4 linked regions of the Homo sapiens genome follow. The protein of the gene in region 2 interacts with the protein of the main gene of each other region in a pairwise test. Each region holds a gene or a part of one and is shown on either strand. Other genes may lie near its edges.

Evidence for each region.
Region 1: the proteins of BSND (region 2) and LAMP2 interact in binary tests that used the Homo sapiens proteins (3 or more experiments, as listed by UniProt).
Region 3: the proteins of BSND (region 2) and ARFIP1 interact in binary tests that used the Homo sapiens proteins (3 or more experiments, as listed by UniProt).
Region 4: the proteins of BSND (region 2) and HIP1 interact in binary tests that used the Homo sapiens proteins (3 or more experiments, as listed by UniProt).

The regions. Positions count from the first base shown.
Region 1 is NC_000023.11:120,424,233-120,431,296, forward strand, and holds the end of LAMP2 (lysosome-associated membrane glycoprotein 2 isoform A precursor), read right to left. Parts: 3' UTR 4,395-7,064; coding exon of another isoform or gene 4,252-4,394; 3' UTR 1,916-4,251; downstream 1-1,915. UniProt on the Homo sapiens protein: Lysosomal membrane glycoprotein which plays an important role in lysosome biogenesis, lysosomal pH regulation and autophagy.
Region 2 is NC_000001.11:55,008,933-55,015,932, reverse strand, and holds part of BSND (barttin), read right to left. Parts: 3' UTR 1-7,000.
Region 3 is NC_000004.12:152,774,307-152,783,678, reverse strand, and holds the start of ARFIP1 (arfaptin-1), read right to left. Parts: upstream 3,726-9,372; 5' UTR 3,453-3,725; intron 1-3,452. UniProt on the Homo sapiens protein: Plays a role in controlling biogenesis of secretory granules at the trans-Golgi network. Mechanistically, binds ARF-GTP at the neck of a growing secretory granule precursor and forms a protective scaffold.
Region 4 is NC_000007.14:75,727,876-75,736,290, forward strand, and holds part of HIP1 (huntingtin-interacting protein 1), read right to left. Parts: intron 1-8,415. UniProt on the Homo sapiens protein: Plays a role in clathrin-mediated endocytosis and trafficking. Involved in regulating AMPA receptor trafficking in the central nervous system in an NMDA-dependent manner. Regulates presynaptic nerve terminal activity.

The sequences.
Region 1 (7,064 bases), on a different chromosome or scaffold from region 2:
GAAACCCCGTCTCTACTAAAAATACAAAAATTAGCCAGGCGTGGTGGCTATCCCAGCTACTTGGGAGCTACTCGGGAGGCTGAGGTATGAAGAGTAGCTTGAACCTGGGAGGCAGAGGTTGCAGTGAGCCAAGATCGCGCCCCTGCACTCCAGCCTGTGCAACAGTGAGACTCTGTCTCAAAAAAAAAAAAAAAAAAAAATTCTTGAAACCCTTCCCAAAAGGCCTTAGATTTGGGAATAGGAACTGTGTATTAATAAGGTTCAGAACCACCTGGCAAAGATAGTTGAGTGTCATGGTTACAATGCGCTTAAAGCTGAGGGATGAAGGGAAGGGGTATGAATGGTATTAAGGAAAGTGAGAAGAGAGACAGTTCCATTTAGTTTCTTAAACACACTAATGCACAGTCAAAATGATTCATGGTACAGAAGAGTTTGAGAGCAGAATGACAATGATATGTGATCAGAATAACTAGATGAGGCTACCCTGAAAAAAGTGACATTCGGGCTTAATATTACTGATGAGGTACAGTGCAAACTGGCCTTGGTTTTGATCTTCCAAAAGGCATGCTGCCACAACATCCATCTGCCCCACAAGTGGGCTGGATAAAACTCAAGTTATTTTAAGAATATTGAAGAATATTTATAAGGCAACTACATACAAGATAGAAGAGTACAGAAGTCAGATTTCTGTAACCATTTAATGTAAGGCATGTGCTTTAAAAAAATCTATTGCTTCTGCAAAAGGCAGATGTATAGTGGTTAACTGCATGGTCTTTGGCGGGCAAACAGAACTGGGTTCAAATGTCCATTTTGCCACTTAATCCTGTGTGACTTTGGTTAAGTAACCAACTCAAGCCTCAGTTATCCCATATGTAAACTGGAAATGATACCCCCAACCTCAGAGAGTTGGTGTATTAAATGAAATAAGGTGTTTAAAGTGCACAGCACTGTAACTGCTCAATAAAATTATGGATTTTTCCTACTAAAGATGCATTGTATGGCAAGATTTCTCCTGTTCATTATGCATACCTCTTGAAATTAAAGGGACCCAAACTTACACTGCTATCAAAATACATGCAGACAGTAAAAACAAAGGAAAGGAAAAACATTTCATCAGAATTCTAAAGGCAGTTCTGGCATTCAAAAAGTATACACATTGAAGTTAAAAAGATGACCCTCCAAGTTGACTTTTTAGATACACTGTAACCCTCACAGCAACATATATCGAACCACTCTTCCTAATTATCAGTCAACTTAAAGTGCTTCTTTCAGAGGCCTCATGAGGTGGCAGTTATGAAGGCCATTTTTTGACTTAATTACAAGCTATTAAACGTCTTTCAGAAAATGAAACCCTATTATTCTGGAACTATGGAGGGAGCCAATGTCTAATTCCTTCTCCCACCAAAAATACCTCTCATGTAAAAAGGAGTATGTTTATGTATGTGTTGTTGTTTTATCCAATTATATAAAAATTAAGCATTAGACTAGATTGTAAGGAATTTAAAGGAAATTCACAAAATGGATAGCTCCTCCCCTTGCCCCACCATATCCCTGAGGTATATCTCACTCAGAATGAAATGAACTTCAACAATTAGTATAGTTCATCAATGCAGACAGACATACGCGGAAAGTACGTTTGTTATGATGTTCTTACATTTGTTAGATTTCCATATTTTGTTTTTGATGTTTTCTTGTAATTTCCATGACTAAGTAGGTCCCCCTATTTGAGGTGTCTGTACTAAAGGTTCTGTACTAGTGCCTTCCTAATGACGGGACTTGGTTAAGTTGCAGATCTATGAGATCCTATGATTCCTGTTGACAATCCAAGAGACTAGAATTCAAGAAACTTAGATTATACAATTAAGTCTAAGCTCTTAAGGCTGAGCATATGGAATAAAAATGAGGTTATCCATAGTGGTATGGAATGTATGATCTTTATTAATTTTTAATCCATCAATCTAAAATCACACATACTAGATCAAACAGAAGTACCACAGTATGCTTTATTTTGCAGGTATTAATTGGTTCTCTAAATCGATACATCCAAAACTTTAGTTAGCAGCAAGCATCAGTTCTTCCAAAGCAGCTTAGGTGAAAAACAATTGTTTACATTCACCAGTTCAAAGTCGTACTGTCTGATCCACTGTTGTATTGACATAAAATTGAACTCAGTAGGCAAAGCTAATTGAACACTCAGCTCATAGATTTTGAGCTTCCTTTATCTTATTGGAGTTGAAGCAGTTTTTAACCCTCTGTTAATATTCTCTATTTTAATTCTCAAAGAATTAAACACACATATTTTCTAATTAATTAAGATAGAGCCATGATAACTATTGAGGAATTAGTGATATTAGTCTCATACCCAAAAGGTAGAACACTTTTAAATGAACCCATAATTTTGAATGTATCTGAATTTCCAGTTTATATGCTTAGCAAGGTCACAAGCTGATTTTATTAATCTGGCTTCTAGATAATCATCTCAAAAATATGTATTGAAACAAAGCCACTGTTTTTTATGATGACATCATTTTAACCAAATGCTTTTATAACAAATAAGCAGTTGTTCTCAAAAGAGAACATTTTAAAAGAAAACATTCTTTACATACTTAGCAAATAGAGGAGAGTGTGAATCTGTATGTCAGAGCTATAGAGTTCTAGAGGAGTTGTAGTTGAGCAATCTAACTTTCTACTCCAGTTTTTGAGATGTACATGTTTTTGAGATGTACATATAGAGAAGGCAGTAAAGAAAGATCTTGATAAATTTTCTTTAACAAAAATTTGTAATTCCAGTTATTGGCAAAGGGTTCTGGCATGAGTTAATGGCAGCAATACAGTGGTGAGCTTCTGCATTGTGCTGAGAGGTAGATTGGGACTTAATCCTTGGAATGAATAACCAACTCACTTTATTTAAGGTTCAGGCTTAATTTTTTTAATCCAAAAAAAATTTCTGAAGTGAAGGCAGATCTTTGGGAACTTTTGTTTTTAGTTAAATGTAGAGATAAAATAGCTTGATAAAATAAACATCTGCCTTATACTAATGACAGGTGTACAAAGCAGCCATTTGAACCCTAGACAACTTCAACACTGCTTCCAAATAAAAGGGCAATTCAACAGCTGAACCAATCAAGCAGACACAGGGATGAGTGGTCTCCAGTACCTTACTCCAGAAGCCGGAGCCATTAGCAGTCCCTACAGGGATATAAGTCTATATCAAGATCAACAAATGTACAGAATAATCTTAGTCCAGCTTTGGCTAGGCAGGCATCTGACTGATGACATATCAGGGCCCACTAACCTCTAGAGTAAGCACTTGTTGCTGTGAGAAAAAAGAAATCAATATATTAAAAATATCAACTAGAGCATATTCACATAGGGAATGGGAGAGTGCAGGAGGCACACAAACAAAGTATATAGAGTTTTTGTTTTCAGTGCAGGATAAATGAACCTTCTTAACAAGTTAAGGCTCTGAGGGAAAAAAACTTTCTAAACCATAACCTTAATAAACCATAACCCATACAGGTGTTCCAAATCAACACCTTTTTTAAAAAAAGCTGGAGGTCTTACTTCATCCTTCAGTATAAATGTCAAGTCTGAGATAATCAGTATATTCCAAACTCTAGAACAACAACAACAAAAAAAGAAATCTCCTTGTTAAAATATAGTAGCTATTAACAGTAATGAAGAAGACAGCCAAACTTTTGCTATTAAATACAATATCATGAAGCCATTTCTTTCTTAACTAACAGAAAAATACAGATTTAAATAATGCTGATCAGGAGGTGGGGAAAGGAAGTCTTATCATGAACCAAATTTCGTGTCTGCCACCAATGAAAATGAATCCACTATGTTCTTGAATTTATTTCCTGAAGCAAGTTAAATTCTTTAACACCTTTGATTTTGCAAATAACATCAAAGTAGTAAAATATAAGTAACTGTAACATATAAAATTACACATCAGCAAAAATGCTTTCATAATTGGATCCAGGGGCTTAAAATCATTATTTACTTAAAAAATTCTAAGCCACAATTTTTCTTTTAATTATACTTTAACAAAGGAAGAAAAAAAACAGAAAAAAATTGGTCCTAATATATTTTGTCTTAAATAAGTGTACTCATGCCCAAGTTAGCTAGGAACTCACTGAAGTTAGTCTGCATATCTTAAACAATCTATTGCACAGCATGTCCTGGCTTTTAGCCAATGGAAACGTAACTTCTAATTGAAAAAAACAAACAAACACTAGATTTAACTGATTACACAGACTGATAACCAGTACGACTTTTCCTTCTTCCAATCATATAAGAGATAAAGACAACAATTATAAGGAAGCCCAAGGCCACACCCACTGCAACAGGAATAAGAAAGTTGAGGTCAGAGTCAGCAGAACATTCTTCAGCTGTTAGAAAAGAACAGACAGCAAGGAAAGGAAATTAGCAAAGAATGCAATTAAGTAGTAAAAAGCATGCAAGAAACATGCATTTTGAAAGTGTACATAGCTTAGTTTTTTATAGCATTACCTCTATTTTCTTATTTGCTCAATATCTCATTATCACTTTATCTAAAATCACACGAAATTCCTCAGTACGAAAAGCAGAAGGTAAGGGAAGAATGGGAAGGGTCCAAAATAGAGAATTGCGCTTGCCTAATATGGGAAGACTTTAGGTTTGATTATCTAATGACACTGGGTTAAGGAGCCATCATCTACACTTAAAACCACTGCCTGTGTATTTCCCTACTCTCTTTCTCTTCGTCACACCTATAATTAAAGTATAAATAAGAATTCTGTATAAGTAATAAAATTTAAGTTAAAAAAGACTTAGGATCAAGAATGTAGTATATATATACATATATATGTGTGTGTATATATATGTGTATATATATGTATATGTGTATATATATGTGTGTGTGTATATATATGTGTGTGTGTGTACATATATATATATATACACACACACACAATTATTTTTAGCTGAGCGGTGGCCTGGAAGAATAACAGCAGTATCTAATGCGTTGCAGTCCATTCCACCGAACCACCAGGAAAGCAACATGTGCAATGTAGATTTTGAGTTCTGGATTCAGACAGAACTGTGTTTAAATCTTGACTCCTTCCAGTACTAGCCAAAGGACCTTGGGCAAGTTATTTAAACTGGGCCTCACTTTCCTCATCTGTAAGAAGGGGATAATAATACCTATAAGGTATTTGAGGATTAAATACAATTACATTTCTAAAGCATCTGATACACATCAAGAGGTCAACAAGTATTCATTCTCTTCTCTTTTCCTCTTATGCTCATGATCCCATCTGAGGAGGATTAGGTTTTGAAGTAGCAAACAGAGATTAAAATAGAAGTGTTTTGGTATATTACTACTGAAAAAGCCCATATTAGTATTAAAAAAAAAACTTAAGCAAAACATAGTACGGAAGCCCAAAGTGCCCAATTCTGATCTCATAATTTCAAGTGTAAACCAGCTGTTGTTTTACTGTTGAGTGACTAGATTTCATTAGGGGCAATTTTTATCAAAATGCTAGTAATAGTTTTGTTGCCCACTTGATATGGAACCTCAATGAATTTCACTCCCCTTTCTGTAAATAATCGTTAAGGTCCTTTCCAGTAATAGCTAATGAAATTAACAAAATGTGTTATCTGGTGTGATTTATGATTAAGCAATAACTTGTACTTTTCTTCTAATTTTAACTTTTCCTCCTCTTGTACTTTTACCATTCATAAAAATGTTGCTACGGTTCTGAGTACACAACACTCATCTCAGTAACCACACATTAGCCTATGCTGAAAGAATTTACTATATTTTACTGAAAGCTCTCAAAGACTGACAGCTGGGTAACAAGATACACTGTATTGTTAATCAGGAAGTTATAGAGACTCTGATCATGCCCCTATATACATACAATGGGTTAATAATACTTCAATGTGGAAGTCTTCTAGTCTATTAAGCCTTCCTTCTTTATCTATGTTTCATGTCTGTGCTACTCTTATACCATGGAATATGCTTCAACAAGGGCTGATTATCTAGCTCATTTTAATGCCAACAGCTTCTCTTTACACCCCCATCTATGCACTGCCCCACAGGGGCCATCTTGAAGAAACAAGAGCCTAGTTGCTATGCTTCACTGCCTCCCTTCTGAGATTGCTGTTAGCTTACATTTCATAAGTACCACACTGATGACAACACTAAATAGATTTTAATGCTCCAGAGATCAACAAGATGAGGTAGAGAAACACAACACAATCTGTCCTAATTAGTTCATAGAATATTTCTATCTTTCAATACTAATCAGGCATCCAAAGAAGAACAAAACAAGAAACAAAAAAGCAAGTGGCTAAATATGCTTGGATCTTTTCAGTCTATATTGCTGAAAAACAAACAATTATCTTAAAAACTCTAATTACGAAGCCAGTTTAAGTTCTGTTGTAGCCTCTTGGGTCTGTATCATCCCTAGGGAAAAATCACAGGCTTGAGGTACTAACTTCATGCTTAACTTGAACTCAGAGAAATCAGCAAAAGTCACATAACCTTTAAAATGCTGATGGTCCTGAGGACATTCTCTACTTCATTCAACTGAAAACCAAGTTTAAGCATATCTGATGGGCATTTATACCACATCAATATTTATTTAATGAACTTTATGCAAAGGCACATTGATGAGTTTAAATCACTATAGTCCTTATACATTGAAACAGAACACCAGTAGTGAAATGACATTTATTAATTCCATTAAGACACAACTACATATTTTATTCTTATAATGGCCATGTTAATAAGTTCAAGGCATACTTCAAGGTTAGGATCAAAATTTGGCCAGGGCTTCTTAAGATAGACCTTAAAACATTGCACGTTGATGTTCTTTTGAACAAGTTTGTCTCCAGGACCAGTAAATATGACACTTTGGATTTTAAGCTGATTAAAGAGAACAGGTTTTATTAATAAAGACTGATCTCAAAATGCTGGGATTGATAAAAGAATTAAAGTTTCAACATATCAATTTTAAGAAGCAAAGTGTTTCAACAACTGAGAGGTAAGAAAATCTTGTTATTTGCATGTATTT
Region 2 (7,000 bases):
CGCCCAAGCTGTTCTCCCTCCCTGCTCTTCCCTAGCGAATCCTTCAGGACATAGCTTGGTGGGAGTTCCTCTCTGAGAAGCTCCTGCCGACTCTCCAGGTGGGGTCAGATCCCCGCCGTGCTTCCCTCTGCTCAGCACTGACCTGTCACTGTTCACTCTGCAGTTAGCCCGGGGTAGTAGAGGTTCCCCCAAGACAAGCATGGGTCAGATGCATGTCTCTTCCCCCAGTACCTAGCACAGGGGGTGGCACAAAGCAGGTGCATAGTGTTTGTGGTTAGAATAAATGAATAAGTGAACAAATGAATGAACACATGACTAGATAAAATCTAGCCCTCCTTACCCCCAGGCTTGCTGATCTGATCCCCAAAGCCTGGTCTCATCCACCTACCCACCACACCGTGTCTGCTCTTCTCCGGGATGTGCAGGGACTATCTGCAGAATCACCAGTGGGGCCCATTTTCTGACCTGGGGACTTCCTGAGTCACTGGGGCCCTCATTTGCCCTTGTCCTGGGTCATCTGTGAACTGAGCACTGCCTTGGCCAGGGCCCTGGTGTCTTGGCGGGAAGCAACAGCCTCTGCCACAGGGTTCCCTGCCCTGCTCTGCTGGATTTGTGGTCAGCAAGGAGGAATCCAGGACACCGGCTCTGCAAGCTTCAGTCCTGACCTGGCATCCACCCAGTGACATGAGTGGAAAAAACCTTTCACAGGGCAGGTTGAGAATGAAATCCCTGCCGCAGGGCACAAACCAGCCTTCTTGCCACCAATACGTGCCACCTTTCCCTTTTGTATCTGTTAGTATATGACCTGAATGTTTCTTTCATGTCACTCCTCTGCTCAAGAATCATCAATTAATCCCCCTTGCCCATCAGAACAAATCTGAGCTCCGTGGCAGGAATTCAAGAAGCCCCATGGCCAAGCTGCGGCCTCCCTCTCTGACCCTGTCCTCCACCACTCCAGCCAGGACAGTCTCCTTCTTCCTCCTTCCTTCCCCCAAGGCTTTGCCTATGCCATGCCCTCTGCCTGAGATACCCTCACTCCTTCATTCTACTGTTTTAAGTCCTGGCTTGCAACTCCCACCTCTTCTGGGTTGCCTACCAGCTATCCAATGTTTGATAACTCATTTAAGAAAAACAAACAACTAAGCCCTTCAGCACTTAAGAATCACCAGGCTTGCTTATGCAAAACCCAGGCCATCCCAGACTTTTCTGAGGATGGTTCTAGGACACTAGATTTTTAAAGTTTCCCAGGAGAGTCTGATGCCACCAGCCCAGCTGGGTCCATTGACAGGCACTTGGAAGCACTGACGATACAAAGCTCGAATTATACATGTGCTTGGATGACACAGTGCTTGTAGGCTTGAACGACCCAGGTGCACATGGGCACCTGATGTCTACACATTGTAACATCATCTCTGCAGGCAACACTAACAATGATAACTGACTTTACTGGGGGCTCACCAGGTGCTAGGCACATGCTACACTCAATATGCATGATCTCATCCAATCTTCACAACATGCCTATTGGGTCGATATCACTAACCTCAATTTATTAATAAGGAAATTGAGGGCCAGAGAGGCTAAGTCTCCTGGCCAAAGTCACAGAGCTGGCCAGTAGGGAAGCCTAGTCTCAAACCCAGCGCTGTTTACTCCAAAGCTGGTGCTCCTCAGCCCTGGGCTAGGAGTCCATGCCCCTGGGCCATGAGCCTTCAGAGTGGGCACCCGGTTCGGTTCAATTCTGTTCCACCAGCACTACTGTTCCTTGCTTTTGCTAAGTCCTGGGGATAGAAGTATTGGCGGGGAAGAGGCCCCTGTCCTTGAAGGACCTCCCAGTCCATGTGGGGAGACTGGTACTCACACAGCTAGTCATTCAGAAGTGCTGGGGACAGAGCGGGGCACACAGTTTAGGAGGGATTCGGAGGAGAGGGTGCAGTGGAGATGGATTCCACCGTGGAAGGGGAGAGCAGGGCTAATTCAGGCTCCAGGGAACAGGTAGGGTTTGAGGGATGACAGAGAAGGGGATGAAGGGCACCTGGGTGGAGGGAACAGCATGAGCCAAGGCAGGGTGGCTGGAAAGGTGAGGATGCCGGGGCTGCTGCACGGGAGCACATGGCAGATGATTCAGCTGGATGGGGCAGTTGGGGCCAGATCATGAAGGGCCTCAAATGCCAGCCTGAGGAATCTGAATTTTATCTTGTGGGCAATAGGCAGTCATGGAAGATGTTGCAGGGGGGTGTCTCCCTCCACACTAGCACAGGGAGATGCTCAGTGGAACCTTGCTGCCTGACTTATTGATACTGATTTTTCTCCTGTCCCACTAGGGTCAGAATGGCCTGGGGCTACTGGATGATTCCTGGCAGGAACAGAAAGCCCTGCAGCTCTACCTCCTCTCCTCCATTTAGCTCTTCTCCGCAAGGATGGGCAAATTATTCAGCTTCTCTGAGCCTCAGTTCCTCATCTATAAAATGGGGACAGCTGGGTGCAGTGACTCACACCTGTAATGCCAGCACTTTGGGAGGCTGAGGCGGGTAGATCATCTGAGGTCAGGGGTACAAGACCAGCCTGGCCAACATGATGAAACCTCATCTCTATTAAAAATACAAAATTAGCTGGGTGTGGTGGCAGGCGCCTGTAATCCTAGCTACTTGGGAGGCTGAGGCAGGAGAATCACTTGAACCCGGGAGGTGGAGGTTGCAGCAAGCTGAGATTGCGCCATTGCACTCTAGCCTGGGCAACAAGCGCAACACTCCATCTCAAAATAAATAAATAAATACATAAAAATAAAATGGGGACAATACACCAACCTTGCAAGCTGCGAGGATGAAATGAAGAAAAGTGTGCACAGCACAACAGGTGCATTGTTGAGTCTTATGACGTGGACCAGGTGGCATCGTGGGAAGAGCACAGGCTCAGAGGACCTATGTTTGAATATCAGTTTCTCCCCTGGTAATACCCATCTCTCAGGGCAGATGGAAAAATTAAATTCAATGAAATGATTTATGGGAAGCACCTGACACTCAGCAGCTGCCTGGAACCCTGTTTGACACCTGTCTGACAGCACAAGCAATCCTGCTCCTCCTCCAAGCTTCCAGGGTGCTGCCTCTCTCACTCAGCATGCTGCTCCCCTCCTGCCCCACAGGAGGCATTTTATACACCTTAGTCCCTGCACTTGCTGTTGGCTCACCTGCCTCTCAGCACTGGGCACACAGACTTTCTTTACCCCTTGCAAGAAGCTTTTACATGCATCTTCCTCCTGGTGAATGCACTCACCTATTGTTTTATTTATAGGCAGGACAGTGGCTCCCTGATGCATAGATGAGGGAAGAGACCCAGAGAGGGAAGAAGACCACCACTGTCTAAGCACCTAAATGTGCCTGAGGCATTATACCCAGTTCTTCTCCACAAAAGCCCAAGAGGGAGGTATTATCCTCCCCACTGCATAAATGTGGACATTGAGGCTCTGAGAGGGGCTGTGACTTGTCCAAGGCCACACAGCAAGGAACTGGCTGAGGCTGAAGGTAAAACCAGGTCTTTCTGATTCTGGAGCCTGGGATTTATAACAAACATTTGCAATGTGGGGTCGACAGATCGGTCCCCCAGGGCTGTTTCACGGACTAGATAGGGTAATAGGGGTGACGGTGTCTTGCATGGTGACAGGCACACAGTGCTCAGGGACTGGGAGCAGAAGTGGAATCTTGCCCACCCTCACCCAATTTTACAGAGAATAGAGGAGCCCAGGGAGGGCTGTGATGTACCCAAGGTCATGGCGAGCGGTCGGCAGAGCCCAGGTTCCCTGCCCCTGGGCCCCCTGCCTTCCCTTGCCCACCCTTTCCAGTTAAGGGCAGGGGCCATCCCTCCAGGGCCTTTCCCTCTCCAGAGGGTGGAAACTTCCAGAGTCCCTCCAACCTGACAGGAGAGTGACCAAGAGCAGGAATTTTCACCCTGGCACACACACCTGGAGCCTGGAGCTGAACGCTAGAATCCCAGGCTTTGCCACCCCAAAAGGCCCCTCCTGACCCTTTCAGAGCCTCCCAGCCTTCTCCCCAGGACCTTCACCAGCACCTTGCCCCTCTCCCAGTGGAGAGGGGGTGCCCCAGAGGCTCTGATGCTCTTAGAGGGGACTGCAAGTTGGCAAGGCCAGGGGCATGAAGCACAGTGTTTTATGATTTTATTTTATCCTAGATAAGGTTGAAGAAGACACCCAGTCATAGAATGAGCCCCGCCTCCTGACAGCAGCCGGTTCAGAGCAAAGGCCTGCTTCTTAAACCCTCGCCAAGCCACTGAGCACTGGCCCAAATCCAGTAACAAGTCCTTTCTAATACCTCTTTCAGAGACTCCCCCTGGTTCGCTGTGGTGTTCATTCCCCCTTACTGCAAGAAGAAACCCAGCTTGTTAACCACAGGTGAGGTGTGCTCCCAGTGGTCTTTGGCTGCAGGGCATTGACAAGATAGGTCCCATCAAACACCCCCATCACTTCCAAGATTCCAAGATATGCGCACTTCATCTGTCATTTGCACATGAGAAAGCTGAGGGCTACGGAGGCAACCAGACTTGTCAAAGGTCACAGAGTAGGTAAGGTAACATTGTATCATCCAAATGAGGTATCTTCGAGCGTGAAAGGGGCCTCCTAATAACTTAGCAGAGGCAGTCGGTGTCAACCGGGACCTTCCTGGGCAGATCAGGTGTGTGGTCTCCCCATCATGCAGCAAGAGCCAGGGAGACCAAGCCTGGGTCTCACCATCTCACTCCACTACCCCAAGCCCCCTGCAGATGCTAACTCTAGAACAGGGTTACCATCTTCCTGCTGGCAGGCCCAGCAACCAGAGGCTCTTGTTTAAGTCTAAAGCCACTGCGGTTGTGGTTCAGGGGTGTGGGGAATCACTCCTGAGATTCAGCACCACACAGCACACCCCACGGTCATGCCACTGCAGTGAGGGCTTACTTCCGGAAGAGGGCCTCTGGTGCCCGTCAGGCGTAAGGCCTCACGTATCCTGCCCCGAGGGAAGGGGTGGTTTTAAAGAAAAGAATTTGCAGGTGAATGAAGATGACCCCTTTAAATGTTGAAAGTAGTTTTATTTTAGCCCTTAGTGCTGACGCTGTTTCTAACGTGGGTTGTAGGCTGCCCTGCCTTAGGCAACAGAGCACAGGAGCATGCTACCCCTCACCTCATCCGAAGACTCAGCTGTGACCAGGAACTCCTGTCCTGAGTCATGACAGCAGAGAGGGTGTACCCTGTGGCATCCTTCACTGCAGAGGCAGAAATGACCCAGAAAGAAAAGGAAGTGTGTTCCCAGGGCCATGACCTTGTAACCCAGCACACAGGGGCATCTCCTTCCCTAGGCCAGGACCCCCGGCCTCAACCCGGAAGCCCTTCCCTAGGCCGGGAACCCCAGCCTCAACCCAGAACCCCATAGCCCAGGTGAAGGTCTCTGACTCCCAGGTGGCCCAGGGTGCAGGCTCTGAGGGCGTGGTCCTGGTTTGAGGTAGTGTTACTGCCATTTTCTCTGCAGCTGCCAGGATCCTGGGCTGGGGCACAGGCAAGCGTTGCAGGGATCAGCGTAACAATAGCATCACCCTGAGATGGTTCAATAGGGTACAGTGATGTCTTCAGGGGCTGCAAAGACAGCTTGAGCTATTTCCCCACCATACTCAACTGCCCCAAACAGCTGGGAGGCTGTCACTCTTCTGCCTCTGGTGTGTCCATTTTTTACTTCTCTGTTCCCACCTCAGCTTCTGCTCTGCACTCACAGAAATCAAGCTCACTAGATTGTGAGCCCTCTGAAGGCAAGCACGGTGTCAGTAGTTCATGTCTCTTTACCCCTAGAGATCACAGCTCAATATCTGGCATATAGTAGATGCTCACTAAATGCCATCCAATTCCAATTGTTTTGTTTTGAGGCAGGGTCTCACTCTGTCACCCAGGCCGGAGTGCAGTGGTGCGATCTCGGCTCACTGCAACTTCCATCTCCTGTGCTTAAGCTATCCTCCAGCTCAGCCTCCCAAGTAGCTGAGACTACAGGTGTGCACCACCACGCCCAGCTAATTTTTGTAGTTTTAGTAGAGATAGGGTTTCGCTATGTTGCCCAGGCTGCTCTCCAACTCCTGGCCTCAAGTGATCCACCCACTTTAGCCTCCCAAAATGCTCAGATTACAGGCATGAGCCACCGCACCTGGCTAGCCAACTGATTCAAACTGAAGTAGGCCAGGAAGATGAATTTCACCTACAATTCCAAGTCAAAGCAAATGTATTCCAGAGGCAGGGGTGGGGGGTGGTGTTCCTCTGGGGGCTTTTTGCCTGCTTTGTGAATACATACAGGCCATTTAGAAGTTTGAATGCTGGGAAGTAAGAGGGCTGTGAGTCTAAAAGTTGGGAACGTGGGGGAGAGTGATTTTATCTGCAACAGGTTCCTGGGTCCTGGTGAGTTCTGTACACCCTTGATGACCACCGATTCTGGGCCAGGCCAAAGGCCCATCTGGGCACAGGCGATCTCAAGGTGAGTAAAGTCAAGATGCTGCCCTTCAACGGGAGGCAGGCAGCCATGCCACACTGACAAATATACAGGTCCCAAAGGCAGCGCAGAGAGGCAAGACCACCTGGTTCCAGGAGGCAGCGACATCAGGAAAACCTTTCCAAGGGAGGTCATCTGTGTAGGGGTTTGAAGGGTGAGCACGAATTTGCCAAGCTGAAAAGGGAGCCAAGGGCATCCTGGTGGAGGAGAACAGCTTGGGCAAGAGTGTGAGCCGCAAGATGGGCAGGGGGGCTAGGCTTGGAACTGGAGGAGCAGAGAGAATGAGGTCAGCAGGGGTCAGTCACAGAAGGTTTTGGGTCCTGGCCAAGGAGCGATGGGAGCTGCAGGAGGAATGTGGCCCAGGAGGAGATGAGGCTCCCTCTGTGTAAAGACGGATCACGCCATCTACCAAGTGGACTATAAGACACAATAGGAATGGGAAACCTGACTGGCCTTCACAAAGGATCAGGGGCCCAGAGGGAGCACCAAGGAAG
Region 3 (9,372 bases), on a different chromosome or scaffold from region 2:
GGTGATATATCTCCAACTCATTTCAAAAAGGACATAATGGACGCATGGTAGAAGTTGTCTACAGTAGTAGTCTAGAGTCAGACAACGTAGGTGGAGCCATGCACTGGCTCCACCAGCGCAATTCTGAGCAGACTACTTTAGCTTCAGTTAATCATTCAGCTTTATTTTCTTCACCTACAGAAATGAGGACTTTAGCCACTTTATAAGGTTATCATTTGAGATAATAATGTAAAGCACTTAGCTTAATGCACATGGTAAGCAAATAAATGTAACTGTTACAGTGTTAGATATAAAATATCTTCCGAATTTGTCATTACCTTAAAAGGAAACTAATTTAGCATAAGCTAGTCTGTTGTTGATGTTGTTTTTGAGATGGAGTCTCACTCTGTTGGCCAGGCTGGAGTGAAGTGGTGGGATCTTGGCTTACTGCAGCCTCCGCCTCCTGGGTTCAAGCGATTCTCCTGCCTCAGCCCCTCCCAAGTAGCTGGGACTACAGGCATGCAACACACACCCGGCTAATTTTTTTATTTTTAGGAGAGATGGGGTTTCACCATGTTGGCCAGGTTTTGAACTCCTGACATCAAGTGATCCACCCGCCACAGCCTCCCAAAGTGTTGGGATTACAGGTGTGAGGCACCGTGCCCAGCCTAGCATACGCTATTCTCTATAAACTTATGTTGACTGCTCCCCCAAGTGAGGTTGCTAGACAGAGGAAAACTTATTCTGTGAGCAGAAGAAACTGGATACTCATGATAGACTATGATGAGCTGTATAGGTCTCTTCAAGTTAACATTCTAAAAAAAAAAGTATCAGACCTTTAGAACTGCAACCCTCAATCAACAAATAATTCACAACCAAATCAGTAAGTTCAAATATGTACTCTAAAACTTACATTAAGCTTGGAAGGATACTAACGTATTCACAAGAGAGAAACAATCATTAAAATATCTCATACAGAATGGAGGGAAAGGGGATGTCAAGATAAGCAACAACATTCCAAAGGACCACACCACTGAAACATCTTGTTTGTTTTTCATAGCAAAGCCAAATCAAATCCTAAGGTACATGCCTCAAGCAAAAAAAATTAAGAAAATGAAAGCAAAATACAACTAGAATTTAAATTTTTTACTCTGAACTGTGCCTAGTTGGTTGGTGATATTTAATACATATTAAAGATAGGCACATCAGTTTGTAAATCCACTGGATCTCCAGAGCATGGACCACAAACAGCTATCCCTAAGAAGAAACCTCAAAACCACAAATCAGGAAATAAAGTGGGCAGCCTCATTTCCTTCTGTAAGTCTAGGAAGGAATTTAGAAACACTAATGTTTTAAAGGAGAGATTTCAATATCAAACTAGAAGAATCCCTGCATTCTCCTTTCCTTGGTCCCAAAGCAAACAATTTACAGTTTGGGAAAACACACACACACACACACACACACACACACACACACCCCTACCTGTTTTCACTAACTTCAACAAGACACTGCCTAAGTGGTGGTTTTAATCTATCAAGAAGCTATATATCTCCTTTGCACAGTTTGGGAAAGCACACACACATACACACCTGTTTTCACTAACTTCAACAAGATACTGCCTAAGTGGAAAACACACACACACATACACACACAAAACCTGTTTTCACTAACTTCAACAAGACACTGCCTAAGTGGTGGTTTTAATCTATCAAGAGGCTGTATATCTCCTTTGAGAATTTGATAAAAACAATGGACACTTTCCCCAGGGGGGAAAAAAATTCACTCAAACAAAACTGCATATAATTTCAGGGGTGGGAATGAGGAAGACCCCTGAAAGTTGTTGACCCTTAGGCCATGAACCCCAAGTCATCATCCAGGATTAAGGCAAATCATAATCCAAGGAAAACCAGTTTATCAATTTGGAAAGAAACTAAAGTAACTGAGGCAGGGATTTAATCCACAAAATACATTAGAAATCTTTTCTCTTTTCTCAGATAAAAGTGTGTTAGACTTGGTAGTTGGGAGAAGACGTGGGTCATGCTAAGCAAGGAAAACAAAACAAAAAACACCACAGGACAAACGAAAGAAAAGCAGAATTAAGGCAGCAGTAAAATATAGTAATCTGTAGCCGCTCTGAGAGAACAGCAATGAAATGGCCAATTCGGCCGGGCGCGGTGGCTCACGCCTGTAATCCCAACACTTTGGGAGGCCGAGGAGGGAGGATCATTTGAGGTCAGGAGTTTGAGACCAGCCTGGCCAACACGGTGAAACCCCGTCTCTACTAAAAATACAAAAATTAGCTAGGCGGTAGTGGCGCCTACCTGTAAACCCAGCTACTCAGAAGGCTGAGACAGGAGAAAAGCTTGAGCCTGGGAGGTGGACGTTGCGGTGAGCCGAGATCGTGCCAATGCACTCCAGCCTGGGCGACAGAGTGAGACTCTGTCTCAAAAAAAAAAAAAAAAAAAGAAAAAAGAAAAGGCCAATTCCTGAAGCCTTAACAGACGGCTGACTTAAGGTAACCATTTCTGGTGCACATTTCTATGCCAATTAAGTTAATTAAATGGCAAACATGAACACACCCTTACAGGTGAAAGTATGAAAGCAAAAGTTTATGCGAAGTTCTGGATCTCTTCCGGCTTTTCCTTATCAAATAATAATGTAGTTAGATGAATTTTATACTTTAGGAGAAAACAGGGTAGGGGCGGGGGACAGAAATCCTAAGAGTGGCCAAAGGATCTGCAGGAAGTATAAAGTGTAAACTTTTTGAAATCAAAGGGCTCAAGAGGAAGGTAAGAACAAAACAAAGGAAGTAATAACAAAATAAAGTAAAAGGGAAAAACGTCTAGCATCTAAAAACTGTTTTTAAAAAATTATTTCCTTTTCCTAGACACGTAAACAGTAGTAACTTGGCAAACAGGAACGGAGCAGAAGACAATCGAACAACTCCCTTTCCAAAACTCCAGCATTCCTTAGTCAGGCTTGGGACATTTCACAGGCAAGACTCCTCTCTGCACCACTGCCAGATGAATCTCTCAGAGGGACTGTCACTATCTCCCTTCCTCCCACTGCGGGAGAGAGGAAGCTGGGGATGCAGGGAGAAGAGGGGAGAAATGAGGGTTGGACAGCAAGCCTGAAGGTGGCCCACTCCGACACTTTGTCAAGAAAGGTCCGGATTCTGGATCCTGCAACTCCTTTTCCCACCCAATGTATGCAAAGCCAAGAGAGTGCCTCCCTGCAAGGGCCGGTCCTACACCTTCACTCGACTGTTTCGGGGGCACACTCAGAGGGACAGAAGGAATGAAGGACAGAAGAAACCAAAGGCATAACACTTGGGCAGATACGGCACAGACTAAGGAGAGGCGTGCCCTGTGAAAGTTCGGAACGGTGAACCCGTAGGCAACGTGCCCGCCCCACCAGCCACCTCAAACCATCTTTCCCCCGCCTTTTCCCAGGCGAGCCAGCTCCGCCCTCACCTTTCTTAGGGTAACTCGGTAGCTTCTAAGTCGAGGCTTATCCTTTCCGCCGCTCTCTGGAATCGCCTCAACCCTGGCAAAAACTGAGCGGAAACGCGACCCGGACCTTTTCCTTCTTCCCCTTCCCCCACGCACCTCGGCTGCTCGGGGGCGGGGAGCAACTGCAGCTGTCACAAATTCACACTGACCAACCGCCGAGGACAGTCGGACCGGCGACCTCTCAACCCAGCCTCCAGAACCAGAACCAAGAGCAGCGAAGCCGGAAGTGAGGAGACCGGAAGTAGCGTTGTCCCTGGCCCTGGACGGCCTCTCTCTCCCTCAATCCGGCCTTGCCCGGCCACGTCTCGGTGGTGTCAGCGCACCTCCCACGAGGATCCCTCCGCCCTTCTCCGGGAGGCGGGCTACGCCCCTCCCTCTGCTGCCCTAGCAACCACATCCGGGACTCCGGCGGTGTCGTTGCCCGGGTAATTTTCTGGCAGCGACCTAATGCGCGCGGGGCCAGAGGCACCGGCTAGAGCTGGGAGCTTGCGGAAGGGCGCCCCTGCCTGGTCTTGAGAGGTCGAAGGTCTCCAGGAGGCCTCCGCCTCCCTCTTTTTCATTCACACACCCTAGCCTCACACGTTAGGAGGACCCCCCCAACAGACCGTGAGCTGGTGCCGGGAGGGTGGAGGTAGATGTACCTCACCTCCACGCTACCACAGAAGAGCGAAAGCTGCTTTCTCAGCCACCGGAGAGCACGAAGAAGGTTATTCCAGTCCCGGGGGGAAGGTGGGGGTGGTAGGGAGAATGCGAAGATAAGGCAGCAGACGGAATGCGGGCGCTGCCTCGCGCTGCCCCCGTGCCTGGGGAGCCCTCTCCCTTCAGAAAGGCTAGACCCCCGGGCCCGGCATCCCTGAGCTCTTACTTGCTCTGGATTTGTGATCGCTTTTTGCTTTTTGCTCGCTCTCTCACAGTAGATTCCTTGATACTTTTCTTTCCGGCTCCTCTTTCTTTTTCCGGATGACCGAGCTCTGCTTTCTTTGCTTGCCCCATTACTTCTTAAATAGATCATTGTTCTGTCACGGAAACTGCTGAACAATTCGCTCTCTCAGAGCCCTTCGTAGTTTCCTAAACGGGGCCCCAACCTGCACTACTCTCCCCATCCCCAGAGCTCAGTGGTGCGAAAGCGTGGCTCCCCCGTGGCGCTAGATAGACCTGAAGTTCATTTACACACTGTACCATACAGTTGGTCCATCACAGAATATCCCTTCGAACTGCTGGACTGCTTTTCCTTTGACAGCTTTGAATGCTCATTTTTACTCCCATTTCACTTGTAGAAATGCGAAGGGTAACTGTGCACACGGCGAGATTTACCCTTCTTTAGACCGTACTTCTCAGCTGCCTTTACTTGTCACAGTAGCTGACAAGATATTTTTAATGACTAATGCCCAAAGGCAGAGCTCTACCTCTACAGATTTCCAGGGAGTTTCAGTGTAGTGAAATATCCCTGGCAGGTATCTTCCCCAGATCTGTGAATAGTAAACACCTATGGCACCATAAATGTTTCCAATGTATAACAATATTGATTGAGCTCTCTAGGATACCACCTCTTAAAAAAATAGTACTGAAATTCCAAAACATAAATCTCTTATCTTAAGTGGTTCTGTCTTAAACAAAAGAAAGGAGCAAATATATATGCCAACCCACTCAAACTGTAACTTCAATTGTTATAGCTTACTGTGGATTTTTCTGTACAAAGCCATCTTGTTGGTTTGGAGACCATTAGTCTTCTCAATTATAAGAAAATAATCCCAATCTAAATTAATTACTGCTGTAATTGTGTAGGAACTGAGCAACTACAGAACTTGCAGCTAAGTACAAGTGTTGTTCCTAGGGTTTCAGAAGGGTGACTTGGAGGAAGTGTACGGTAGGACTCAGCGGTGCTTGAATGATGTGGACAATGAATACTAAATTGTTTTTGCTGGCTGTTATCTTAAAGATTCCTGCTAGCTGTCTCTTGAGTTTGGAGATGCTTAGCTTGACTAAAGTTAGTCTAACTATTAGACTGTCAGACTCTGAAGTGTTTCTTATTTTGGAAAGGTGAAGACTTGCTTTAGTTTGTTCATAGTTTCCTTGGCAGCTGCTGATGGTTTTGATGGAGATTCAGATGGATTTGGAACTAATGCTAACTTCTGCTTGGTGAAGATGCTAACCAAGTTAGATACTCTTCAGTGAATTCTGGTACTGTGTACGATTAATCCTCATCCACAGTATTACGCTGTGCAAGGCTATATATACACAGGATTAATCTTTCCATGATTTCCACTGCCCTGAAGGAAATTAGAATGTAGTCTGGCTCCAAGAAAACACTAGAAACTACTTCAGCTGGTGATGGAAAATAGTGGAATTCTATACATCCTTTGAGACAATGGAAGCAGCAAACCAGCGTTCTTTGGATTGGGGAATATTTTTGGTACTAACTGAAAAACATCATTTTAAGCCTGGCCCTGCTTAGAGGAGACTTGTTTTCTCTTCCCTCTCTCCCTCTCTTCCTTTTTTCCCTCCTTCCTCTTTTTCTTTCCTCCTTTCCTTCTTGTCTCCCTCCCTTCTCCTTCCTTCCTTCTTCCTCTTTTTCTTTCCTCCTTCCCTCCCTCCCTCCCTTCCTTCCTTTTTTCCTTTCTCCCCTCCTTCCTTCCTTTTTTTCTTCCTTCCTTCCTCCCTCCCTCCCTTCTTTTCTTCCTTTCTTCCTTTGCCCTAAAACTTGGGGGACCCTGCCTGCTCATTTTGTTTAGAATAGAAGATTACTACTTTTCTCTGAATTGTCATTTATTTTTAGAGAGGTAAGAAAAAAGGGAATAGCTGCCTTCCATATATACTTATGACATGGAGATTATCTACTCATTTAACTTTGCACTGCTATTGGCTGTTTATTTGGCTTTTGAAAAATCAGGTGCTATTTATTCATTGGGCTTGTGGGGAACTCTAGTAGCCCTGAATGGCATTTGTGGCATACTCAATGAAGTCTAATTCTTTATCCTGGCATTAAAGGCTTACCAAGATCTGGCCTCAATCTTGCAAATGAGCACTCTCTTATATACCTGAAGGAAAAGTGCTAATTTAGCCAACTAATAGAGATAGGTATAAATACCAATATAGACATAGATATGAAACTTTAGTTGCAAAGAAATGTTTAATATGCTTCAAAGTGCATATTTCCCTCTTCCATGCTTTATTGTCTATTCTTATCAGCAGAAATGTTTTCCTATTTTTCCTTACCTGTGATGTACCTATCCATCCTTTACAGTTGAGTTCAGATGCTACTTCTGTCATGAACCCATTATTTATCCTCCCTGTGAGAATTCATTTTTCCCTGTTTTTGGATCTTACAGCCTTTGATTTGAGCCCCCATTTCAGTCTGCTTTATACTACTGTCTTGCATGTTTTCCCATGATAAATAAGATGGTTTTTGGGAAACTGAACTTTGGACTTACTTGATTCTCTTATAACACCAGGAAATTGGCCAATTCTAGTTGAGTTATGGAAATATGTTGTCTGCTGCATACCAGGCAAGTTCAAGAATACCAGCAACTCCTGCTACTTAGGGTAATGGTACAAGTAGGATTAAGTGGATATAGTTGCTATCTATCTGTAGAAGACAATGAGTGAGTGCTGTCTTAAGTTTGGAAAGTAGTTGATTCTCTGCAGAGGGGTATAAACTACTGATGAAAGGAGAGTGACTCATTACTCCTAGAGATTCTGAATGGGAAGAATGCCAGCTTTATGTTTTCTGATACTGATTTTTTTTTTAATAACTTGGTGCAAAAGTAGAACATTATTCTAAGATGACTGTTGTGGAAGAAAAAAAAGGTAGAACATTAGAGTTGTAAAAATGTTTTTAACTATAAAGAGGAAAAAACTGAACTTATTTATAATTCATTTACCTAGAGAGAACATTCAACATTTTGGTCAATGTATTTTTTTTCTTTATATCTATGTAGATATATATTTCTTCATTTATTTAACAAATTGCTACTGACACCCTATGGTTTGCTGGAAGTGAGCTGTGTAGGAATAACCATGAGCCTCTGCTCTGATGTAATTTTTAGTGTATGTTGTATTTGTTGACATATAATTTTATATTTTGCTTTTTTCACTTAATGTATCATGGAATTTTTTCATATCATTAAATATTCTCTTTGTGTGGCACAATAGTATTTCAGCATGTAGATATTTTGTAATTTATTGAATGAATCCTTTTTGTTGCATATTTTCAATTTTGTCTGTAATTATATAGCAATGCAGGGAATAGTCCCGTGTAGCAGGTGGAATTCTAAGATGAACTCCAGTGACACTTACCTTGTATAATTCCCTCTCCCTGTGAACATGATGGGATATTACTTCCATGATTATGTTATGTTACTTGCAAGGGAATTTTGGAGATATAATTAAGGTTGCTAATCAATTGACTCTGAATTAATCAAAAGGGCAATATTCTAGGTAGACCTAACCTAATCAAGTGAGCACTTTAAGAACAGAGAGTTTTCTCCTGCTTGTGGCAGTAGAGGAAGTCAGAGAGATTCAAAGTGTGAAAGAGACTCTACAGGAGGAATGTTCTCCATTGCTGAAATGACAATTTCCCACAGACAAGGACCTGAGGGAAGCCTCTAGAAGCTGAGAGTAGTCCCTGCCAACAGCCAACCAAAAAAACTAGGGACCATAGTCCTACAACAGCAAGGAACTGAATTCTGCAAACAATCTGATTGCGCCTGGAAGCAAATTCTTCCCCAGAGCCTCCAGATAAGAGCCCAGCTTCTGACCAACATCTTGATTTCTACCTTGTGAGACCCTAAACAGAGGACCCAGTTGAGCCCACCTGGACTTAAGATCTACAGAACTGTGAGATAATAAATGGGTGTTGTTTTAAGGCATTGAGTTTGTGGTAATTTGTTGCATTAGCAGTAGAAAACTAATACATTTGTAAGAAATTATTTTTACATCTATAATTATTCTTTTGGGATAAAATCCTTGATATAGGCCGGGCATGGTGGCTCACACCTGTAATCCCAGCACTTTGGGAGGCCAAGGTGAACGGATCACGAAGTCAGAAGATGGAGACCATCCTGACTAACACGGTGAATCCCCGTCTCTACTAAAAATACAAAAAATTAGCCAGACGTGGTGGCACATGCCTGTAGTCACAGCTACTTGGGAGGCTGAGGCAGGAGAATTGCTTGAACCCAGGAGGCAGATGTTGCAGTTAGCTGAGATTGCACCACTGCACTCTAGCCTGGGTGACAAAGCGATACTCCCTCTTAAAAAAAAAAAAAAAATCCTTGATATAGACTTGCTAGATAAAACGTTATACACAGTTTTAAGGTTTGTATATCATATTGCAAATTTGCCCTCCATAAGCGTATTGTAACAATTTATGTGCCTCCTAACAACCTGTTACCTCACCCCAGCAAACGCTAGATACTGACATTCTGATAGGCAAAAACAAAAATGTTTTTTTTAAAAGAAGATTATGTTTTTCTTATTAATAGTAGGATTGACCATTGTTTTCTTTATTTGAAATTAATTTGGTGAGTCTTTTTTGATGATTTGCATATTCTTATTTTCTGATTAGCTTAACCATTGACATAGAGAAAATATTCCCTAACATGTAGAATAGCATTTCTCTGCTGTAATATTTTCAAGAGGGAGAATGATTAATGAGCTTGAAAGGATGACTATTCTGAGAAATATTAGCTGCTGCCATTACTCCTTGCAAAAGAATATCCCAGATGTTATACTGTTGGAGTTTGGAGAATGTCAGCTTCATTGATCAGGTAGTATTGATGCCTTATTCTTTTCTAGGGAAAAAGTCTAATTTGTCTGTTTGGCATTAGAAATGTGATTATTTTTAGGAATAAAGATGTATCTTATCATGGAAAATTGTAGC
Region 4 (8,415 bases), on a different chromosome or scaffold from region 2:
AAATGTCTGTACCTTTTCTAAGTCACACATATCTAAGCCACTGACCCGGCTTCCGCTTTAAAGGGAGATACAGAAAGAAAGTATAAAATTTGGGGCCAGACAAGCCAGGTTCAAACCTCAGTTCTGCCACTTCCTGAGTGCTCTCAAACAAGTCTTTTAATCTCTCTGAGCCTCAGTGTCTGTATTTGAAAACTGACCACAACCATCTACTGCATGCTTGCTCTGTGGCTTCAAAGGAGTAATGTGTCAACATGCCTTTAAACGATAGTGTTACTTGTGTTAAACACAAGCCATAGGCCACACTGGCTTCCTGAGCTGTCTTGTGGCAGTATTAGCAGAGGCAGCAGCAGCAACCTTTCTGATCCAAGAAAAGATGCCATTCTCTCTTCCTCTGAGCCAGCAGACACCTTAAATCACGGTCCCTCTCCCCTCACAAGTCCTGCCCACACACTGGGAACAGAGCTCCTCCCTGGCTGCCCAGGCAGGAAAACAGGAAACAGCCACCACCCTGCCGGGAGGTGGGGCTGACAAGTTCTCTTTCCCAGGTGGGCATCTCTCCAGGTCATCAACCCTCCTTGATGCAGGAGGAGAGCTGGCTGCCAGCCCACTGCACAAGGCTGTGCCCGCTGCCACACCCAGGTCTCCGCCACACCTCGCCTTGAGGCAGTGGAATAAGTGGGCCAATGAATGGGGAGCAGAAAACAGTCTTCATCAGTGCCTTGCAGAAGTGCCAGAGGGGGAACCCTTTCAGTGCCCAAGTGGGGCAGGGAATCTGATCTCCTGGGCCATAGGGACACGCCCCATCCTTCTTAACGTGCAGCACCAACCCTTTATTTTTATTTTTTTTAATCTTCTTTTTCAGAGATGGGGTCTCTGCACTCCAGCCTGGGAGACACAGCGAGACTCTGTCTCAAAAAAAAAAAAAAAAAAAAAAGGACAGGGACCAGGGACCAGGGACGAGGGACCCTGATGGTGCCATATCAGGCAGGGTCTCAGAGAAGGCAGCAAAAGTTTTTGAAAAAGGGCAGTTATAAAAGTAGTTGTCAGTGAAGGGGGAGTATGGTGGGGGGAAGTGGGGTGAAAAACTACCTATGGGGTACTATGCTCACTACCTAGGTGACAGGATCATTCATACCCCAAAACTCAGTGACATGCAGTTTACCCATGTAACAAGCCTGCGCATGTACCATCTGAACTTAAAAGTTGAGGAAAAAAAGTGTAGAGGAAACAGAAGAAAAAAAAAAACCAAAATTCTAACAAGTGAATAAAAATAAGAAACTAGAACAGGAAAAAAAAAAAAAGAAGAAGCATTGTTGGGCCAGGTGCAGTGACTCAATAATCCCAACAATTTGGGAGGCTGAGGCGAGAGGATCGCTTCAGGCCAGGAGTTTGAGACAAGCCTGGGCAACGTAGTGAGATCTTGTCTCTGCAAAAAAAAAAAAAAAAAAAAAAAAAAAATTAATTAGCTGGGTGTGGCAGCACATACCTGTAGTCCCAGCTGCTCAGGAGGCTGAGGTGGGAGAATCACTTGAGCCCAGGAATTCGAGGCTGCAGTGAGCTATGATCGCATCACTGCATTCCAGCCTGGGCAACACAGCAAGACTCTATCTCTTAAAAAACAAAAAAGCGGCCGGGCGCAATGGCTCACGCCTGTATTCCCAGTACTTTGGGAGGCTGAGGTGGGCAGATCACCTGAGGTCAGGAGTTCGAGACCAGCCTGGCTAACATGGCAAAACCTAGTCTCTTCTAAAAGTACAAAAATGAGCTGGGCATGGTGGCAGGCGCCTGTAATCCCAGCTACTCAGGAGGCTGAGGCAGGAGAATAGCTTGAACCCAGGAGGCAGAGGTTGCAGTGAGCCGAGATCGCGCTACTGCACTCCAGTCTGGTTGACAAGAACGATACTCTGTCTCAAAACAAAACAAACAAACAAACAAAAATCACAGTGTTGGATTTGAGGGACACTGTCCAGAACAGGTGATTTAGAGGGCAGGCAGGATGAGATGACAAAAATCCAGGCAAGATGTAATAAGAGCAGGAAATGCAAGATTCACAGGATGAATGGGTGAGACAAGTCTCACAGAGGCACTCAACAGAATGCGGCTGTGAGGGCAGGAAGGAGGGAGGGCTCAGAACTGACACCAGAGAGAAGGTGGGGACCATTGTCCTGCCATGGGGCCGCCCGAGGGGGTACAGTTGTCCAGTGGGAAGTGGTCACTCAGGCTGGGAAGTCAGGAGGGAGATGTGGGGAGTCAGTGCCACAGAAGTGAGAACAGAAACCATCAGACAGAGGTGAGGGCAAAGGAAGTGGACAGGAGGTAAAAGAGAAGTGGGGTGAGGACAACGCCTTGGGGACCCCAAGCATAAGGAGGAAGAGAGCAGAGGGTGCCAGGCAGTGACAGAAGGACAAACAGAGAGCATAGCTATCAACCCCTGAAAGCCTCAATTTCCTCCTCTGTAAAATAGGATTTTTTTTTTTTTTTGAGACGGAGTTTCGCTCTTGTTGCCCAGGCTGGAGTGCAATGGCGCGATCTCAGCTCACTGCAACCTCTGCCTCCCGAGTTCAAGTGATTCTCGTGCCTCAGCCTCCCAAGTAGCTGGGATTACAGGCGCACGCCACCACGCCCAGCTAATTTTGTATTTTTACCAGAGACAGGGTTTCTCCATGTTGGTCAGGCTGGTCTTGAACACCTGACCTCAGGTGATCCACCCGCCTCGGCCTCCCAAAGTGCTGGGATTACAAGTGTGAGCCACCGTGTCCAGCCTAAAATAGGAATTATAATTCATACATGTGTTGCAAGGATCGAAAAGGGTGGCTCATGTAAGGCCTTTACCATTTGCACACAGTATGTGGGCAGTAATTTTTTTTTTTTTTTTGAGACAAGGTCTTTCTCTGTTGCCCAGGCTGGAGTGCAGTGGTGTGATCTCGGCTCAATGCAACCTCCCCACTTTCCGGGTTCAAGCGATCCTCCTGCTTCAGCCTCCCGAGTAGCTGGGATTACAGGCATGCACCACCACGCCCAGCTAATTTTTATATTTTTAGTAGAGAATGGGTTTCACCGTGTTGGCCAGGATGGTCTCGAACTCCTGGCCTCAAGTGATCCGCCCGCCTCAGCCTCCCAAAGTGCCAGGATTACAGGCATGAGCCACCATGCCTGGTCAGTAAATGTTGACGATTACCATTACCATCACTGGGAAGAAACTCAGGACAGTACAAAACCAGGGACCAAAAGAAAGCTCTTAACTTCCTTCTTAAGTTTTCAATACCCACTAAAGGAGCAAGGTTGGGGAGATAGAAGGGTACAGAAGTTTAAGAAGCCAGTTCTGGGCCAGGCGCAGTTGCTCCCGCCTGTAATCCCAGCACTTTGGGAGGCCAAGGTGGGCGGATCACTTGAGGTCAGGAGTTAGAGACCAGCCTGGCCAACATGATGAAACCCCGTCTCTACTAAAAATACAAAAATTAGCTGGGCATGGTGGCGCACGCCTATAATCCCAGCTACTCCTGAAGCTGAGGTGAGAGAACCACTTGAACCCAGGAGTCACATATTGTAGTGAGCCGAGATGGCGCCATTGCACTCCAGCCTGGGTGACAGAGACTCCAACTCAAAAAAAAAAAAAAAAAAAAACGCCAGCTCTGATTGTCAAGTAAATGGAAAAATGGGGTTCACGAGCAGCTCTCCTTGCAAGAAGGCACCTGCTCAGACTTCAGGCAAGGGGTGACTTCTTTGTGCACCTGCTCCAGAAGCAGAAGGGGTGGGGCGCCAGGTTCAAGGCTCAGGGTGCTACACAGCCTGGCTCTGAGCATTTGCATTCCTAAAGAACAAACCTGACACAGATGCTTCTTACCTGCAGGAAGCAGGCTTAGGGCCATCTTGGTTTTCTGAGTATAACCAGAACCAACTGAGCCACCCAAAGTCCGTGGGGTGCCAGGGGTGTGGGAACCCATCAGGACCCACGGTCACCATCTTGATTGCACATGAGAACCACCTGGGACTTTACAAAATGTCAATGATCACCCCATACCAATGAGACAGAATCCTTATGCAGGGGGCCCAGAGAAACAGTATTTTATTTTTTCAAAGAGCTCTCCAGCCAGGGTTGAGAACCGCAGATCCTTCTAGCCCAGCCCTAAAATTTTTTAGCTGCTGAACTAAGGCTGAGCATCTGCTTAAGATCATGAGCAAGAGGGCAGAAGTACCCGCAACGTAAACATGAAAAAAAGGACTTTGCCATTTGGTTGTGAAGTCCTGGCTTCTCGGTTCACTCGCTGTGTGACCTTGGACAAGTCACTTAGCCTCTCTGAGCCTGAGCTATTAAAATGAAATCATAGATATAAATCACCCAGCATGTTCCTGGTACCCAGCAGGCCCTCAATAAATATTTGTTTCTATCTCTTTCTCTCTAGGATCTAAGGCTCTTCTCAACGCAGGATGCATTAAGATCCTTTGCTCTGACGTATGCGCTATCCACCGACTTTTTTTGTTTGTTTCTGGCTTTTTTTGTGTTGTTTTTCCTTTTACAGGGTCTGGCTCTGTCACCCAGTCTGGAGTGCAGTGGTGTGATCACGGCTCACTGCCGCCTCAACTTCCTGGGCTTAAACAATCGTCCTGTCTCTGCCTGCCGAGTAGCTGGGACTACAGGCAGCACCACCATGCCCAGCTAATTATTTGATTTGATTTGATTTTTTTGTAGAGACAGGGTCTCGCTATGTTGCCCAGGCTGGTCTCGAACTCCTGGGCTCAAGCCATCCTCCCGCCTCAGCCTCCCAAAATGCTGGGATGATAAACATGAGCCACTGCGCCCGGCTCACCCAAAGAGATTTTGACTCTCTAAAGGTTTGTTCCCCACTCTGTGTCTTTTCCTCTAATCCCAGAACTCACCTACTACAGAGCACTGTTGCTCAAACATCAGCGTACACAGAGTACCCAGGGCTGTGGTGAACACGACAAGTCCTGATTCAGTAGTTCTGGGTGGTGCCCAACATCCTAATGGCCCTGGTGATGCTGGTGTTTCGGGGCCTGACCACATCAGAGCCCCAAGGCTTGTCCAGGAGCCCCGCAGTGGCCAGTCTGCCTCCCTGCTGACTCACGAGCCCCCCAGAGCCGGTCTCTTTATCTTACTCATCTCTGTGTCTCCTCCACGGTATGTGCTCACTAAACGGATGTTGAAGAAATAAACAAACCATGGAGAAAACCATTTTCCAGCTAAGTAAAAACAGACTATTTTATTTGTCCTGTGATTGACAGCCCTCCTGGCTGATTCCAGAATTGCCCTCTTGGCTGGTGGGAGGACAGTGTGGTCGAACGGGCCTGACACTTGGAACCTGGAGTCCTGGTTTTGAATCCTGGCCCTTCCACTCACCCGTGGGATGACCCTGGGCACGTTACCAAGCTCTTTGAGTCACGATGTCCTCATCCATAAAATGAAAATGATAATGACTGACCACCGTGTGGTCCCAATGATGGCTAGAAACATGCTTTATAAACTGTAAAGTACTCCTGATAAGGTCTCCTTATTACGGCTGGGTTTTCTTTTCTTTTCCTTTCTTTTCTTTTTCTTTTTTTTTTTTTTTTGAGGGCAGGCAGTACTTTTCACTTCCCTAAAGCTTGAAAGTGGCTTGTGATGGATTGGGTGGGGAACACACCAAGGGTCTGGTTGGAGATGGGTGCAGTGGCTGGGCCATGAGGCAGGTCAGTGGTGCCTCCTCTGGCAGTGACAGTGGCCAGGTGAAATGTGAGGATGGTGCAGGAGAGTTGAGGAGGCAAGGCTTCCTGGAGGAGGCTGGCAGGAGTAGGTATGCAAGGCTGGTCTGAGGGTATAGACGCCAGGACAGAAGAAGGCAGGCAGAGCAGTGAGAGTCTTTTGATGGGCATGTGGCCAGGCTCTAGACTGGGTATGCGGGAGGCAAGGCTAGACCAACAGCGACCCTGGAGCATTATAAGAAAACAAGTAATTATAGGCCGGGCACGGCGGCTCACACCTGTAATCCCAACACTTTGGGAAGCCAAGGCGGGAGGACTGCTTGAGCCCAGGAGTTCAAGACCAGCCTGGGCAACACAGCAAGACCCCATCTCTACAAAAAAAATTCTAGGCCAGGAACGATGGCTTATACCTGTAATCCCAGCACTTTGGGAGGCTGAGGCAGGCGGCTCACCTGAGGTCAGGAGTTCGAGGCCAGCCTGGTCAACAAGTGAGACCCTGTCTCTACTAAAAATACAAAAAATTAGCCGGGCGTGGTGGCGCTCGCCTGTAATCCCAGCTACTCGAGAGGCCGAGGCAGGAGAATCACTTGAACCCAGGAGGCGAAGGTTGTAGTGAACCGAGATGGCGCCACTGCACTCCAGCCTGAGCAACAGAGTGAGACTCTGTCTCAAATAAATAAATAAATAAATAAATAAATAAATAAATAAATAAATTTTAAAGATCAGCTAAGCATGGTGGCATGCTCCTGTAGTCCCAGCACTCAGGAGGCTAAGGCAGGAGGATCACTTGAGCCCAGGAGTCCCAGGCAAAACTGAGCTATGATGGTGCCACTGCACTCCAGACTGGACAATAGAGCGAGACCATCTCTTACATAAAAATAAATAAAGTAATTATTAATATATCCTGTGGCCCAGGGCTGAACTACCCACCTAGGCCCAGGGTTCCCTTGCTGACCCCATTCACCACTAACCATGAGCTTCAGGATGCAGGCAAGAGCAAGACACAGACCTGCCCTCAATAAGCTCAGTGTTCAATGGGGGCCACAGAGAGAAATGATGCCAGCACAAGGTCACAGGAACTAGGAGAGGTCACCAGCCCTGCTATAGTTCAGAGGAGGGAGTGGCCAATTTTGCCTCTCTGTCTACCCCAGCCAATGAGTCTCCACTGCACCCGCTGGGAAGTTTATCTGCCTAGTCTAGATGTCTCTTTATTTATGTTCTTCTGTCACTGGAATGCCCCATCCCCTCCTCCACCCAGCAAGCACTAACTCATGCTACAAGATGTGCTTCAGTCCTCGGGGAGGGCTCCCAACCCCAAAGCCTGTGCTTTATCCACGTGCTCTTGGTAATTATCCCATTACCTAGTACCACATCTATCCCTCTAAGGAAGAGTTAATCACAGCCTGCTTGATTGCTCACACTTCTGCTGTCTCGGGTTCGTCTCCCCAGTCAGATTATAACAATAATCACTGAACTAGTGCTCCACAGTTTACAAAATGCCTTCAGGCATATTGGGCTTAATTGAATCCCCACAATAAATCAGCCAGGTAAGTATTATGTTTATTTGACAATAAGGAAACCGAGGCTTAGAAAGGTTAGACAACTTCCCAGAGACCACAAGGCCCATGTACATGCCCAGCTGTAAGCCTCAAATGCCTTCTAACTCCAATGCCAGCATCTGCTCAGTACTCAGAGGCTGCCTGAGGCAGTGGGTAAAGGTTGAGACCGTTTCCAGCTGTGTGACTTCTGGTGAGTTACTTAACCTCTCTGTGCCTCAATCGTCCTGAGAGTAAAATGTGGCTGATACCCACCTCATCCGTTCTTGTCAAGATTTAAAAAGGTAATACAATGATGTCCTTAGAATACTGCCAAACACAATAATTAGTTAGTTATTATTATACCTTGGCTGATTCTCATGGTCTCCTAACTCATTAAATTTTTTCTAATTCATTTTTTATATCTCATAATACATTCTTCCCCTTTTTTCCCTTTGCTTACCAAGCTCTGCAACCTCATAATACATTTGATAGGTAGTCATTAAACAAAATAATTTTTTTGCAGATTGACTAACGTTGGGTTTAGGGCTGTTCTCTTTTCTTTTCTTTTCTTTTTCTTTTTCTTTTTTTTTTATTTGAGATGGGGTCTCACTCTGTTGCCCAGGCCGGAATGCAGTGGCACAATCTTTGCTCACTGCAACCTCTGCCTCCCGGGCTCAAGCAATCCTCCCACCTCAACCTCCAAAGTTACTGGGACAACAGGCACGTGATACCACAACCAGCTAATTTTATTTTTTGTAGAGATGGGGTCTTACTATGTTGTCCAGGCTGGTTCTTTTTCTTTACTCTCCTACACCCCTAAAGAGTTTCAACACCAGAGGCTGGGTGCAGTGGCTCACACCTGAAATCCCAGCACTTTGGGAGGCTGAGGTGGGAAGATCGCTTGAGGCTAGTTCAAGACCAGCCTGGGAAAACACAGTGAGACCTCCGTCTTAAAAAAAAAAAAAGTTAAAAATAAGAGTTTCAACATCAGAAAAATTCTCTTTTTCTGCTCCACTCTACTTCACCCCCACCCACCCCACCCAGGTCAAATCTGGCCAATCACAAATGTCCCACAGAATGTAAAACACCAGAAAACACTGACCTAGACTCTCCTGTTGGGCCGTCCCTGGATAGCAGGGAAACATACCACTCACGGGTGGAAACTTTCACAAACCTA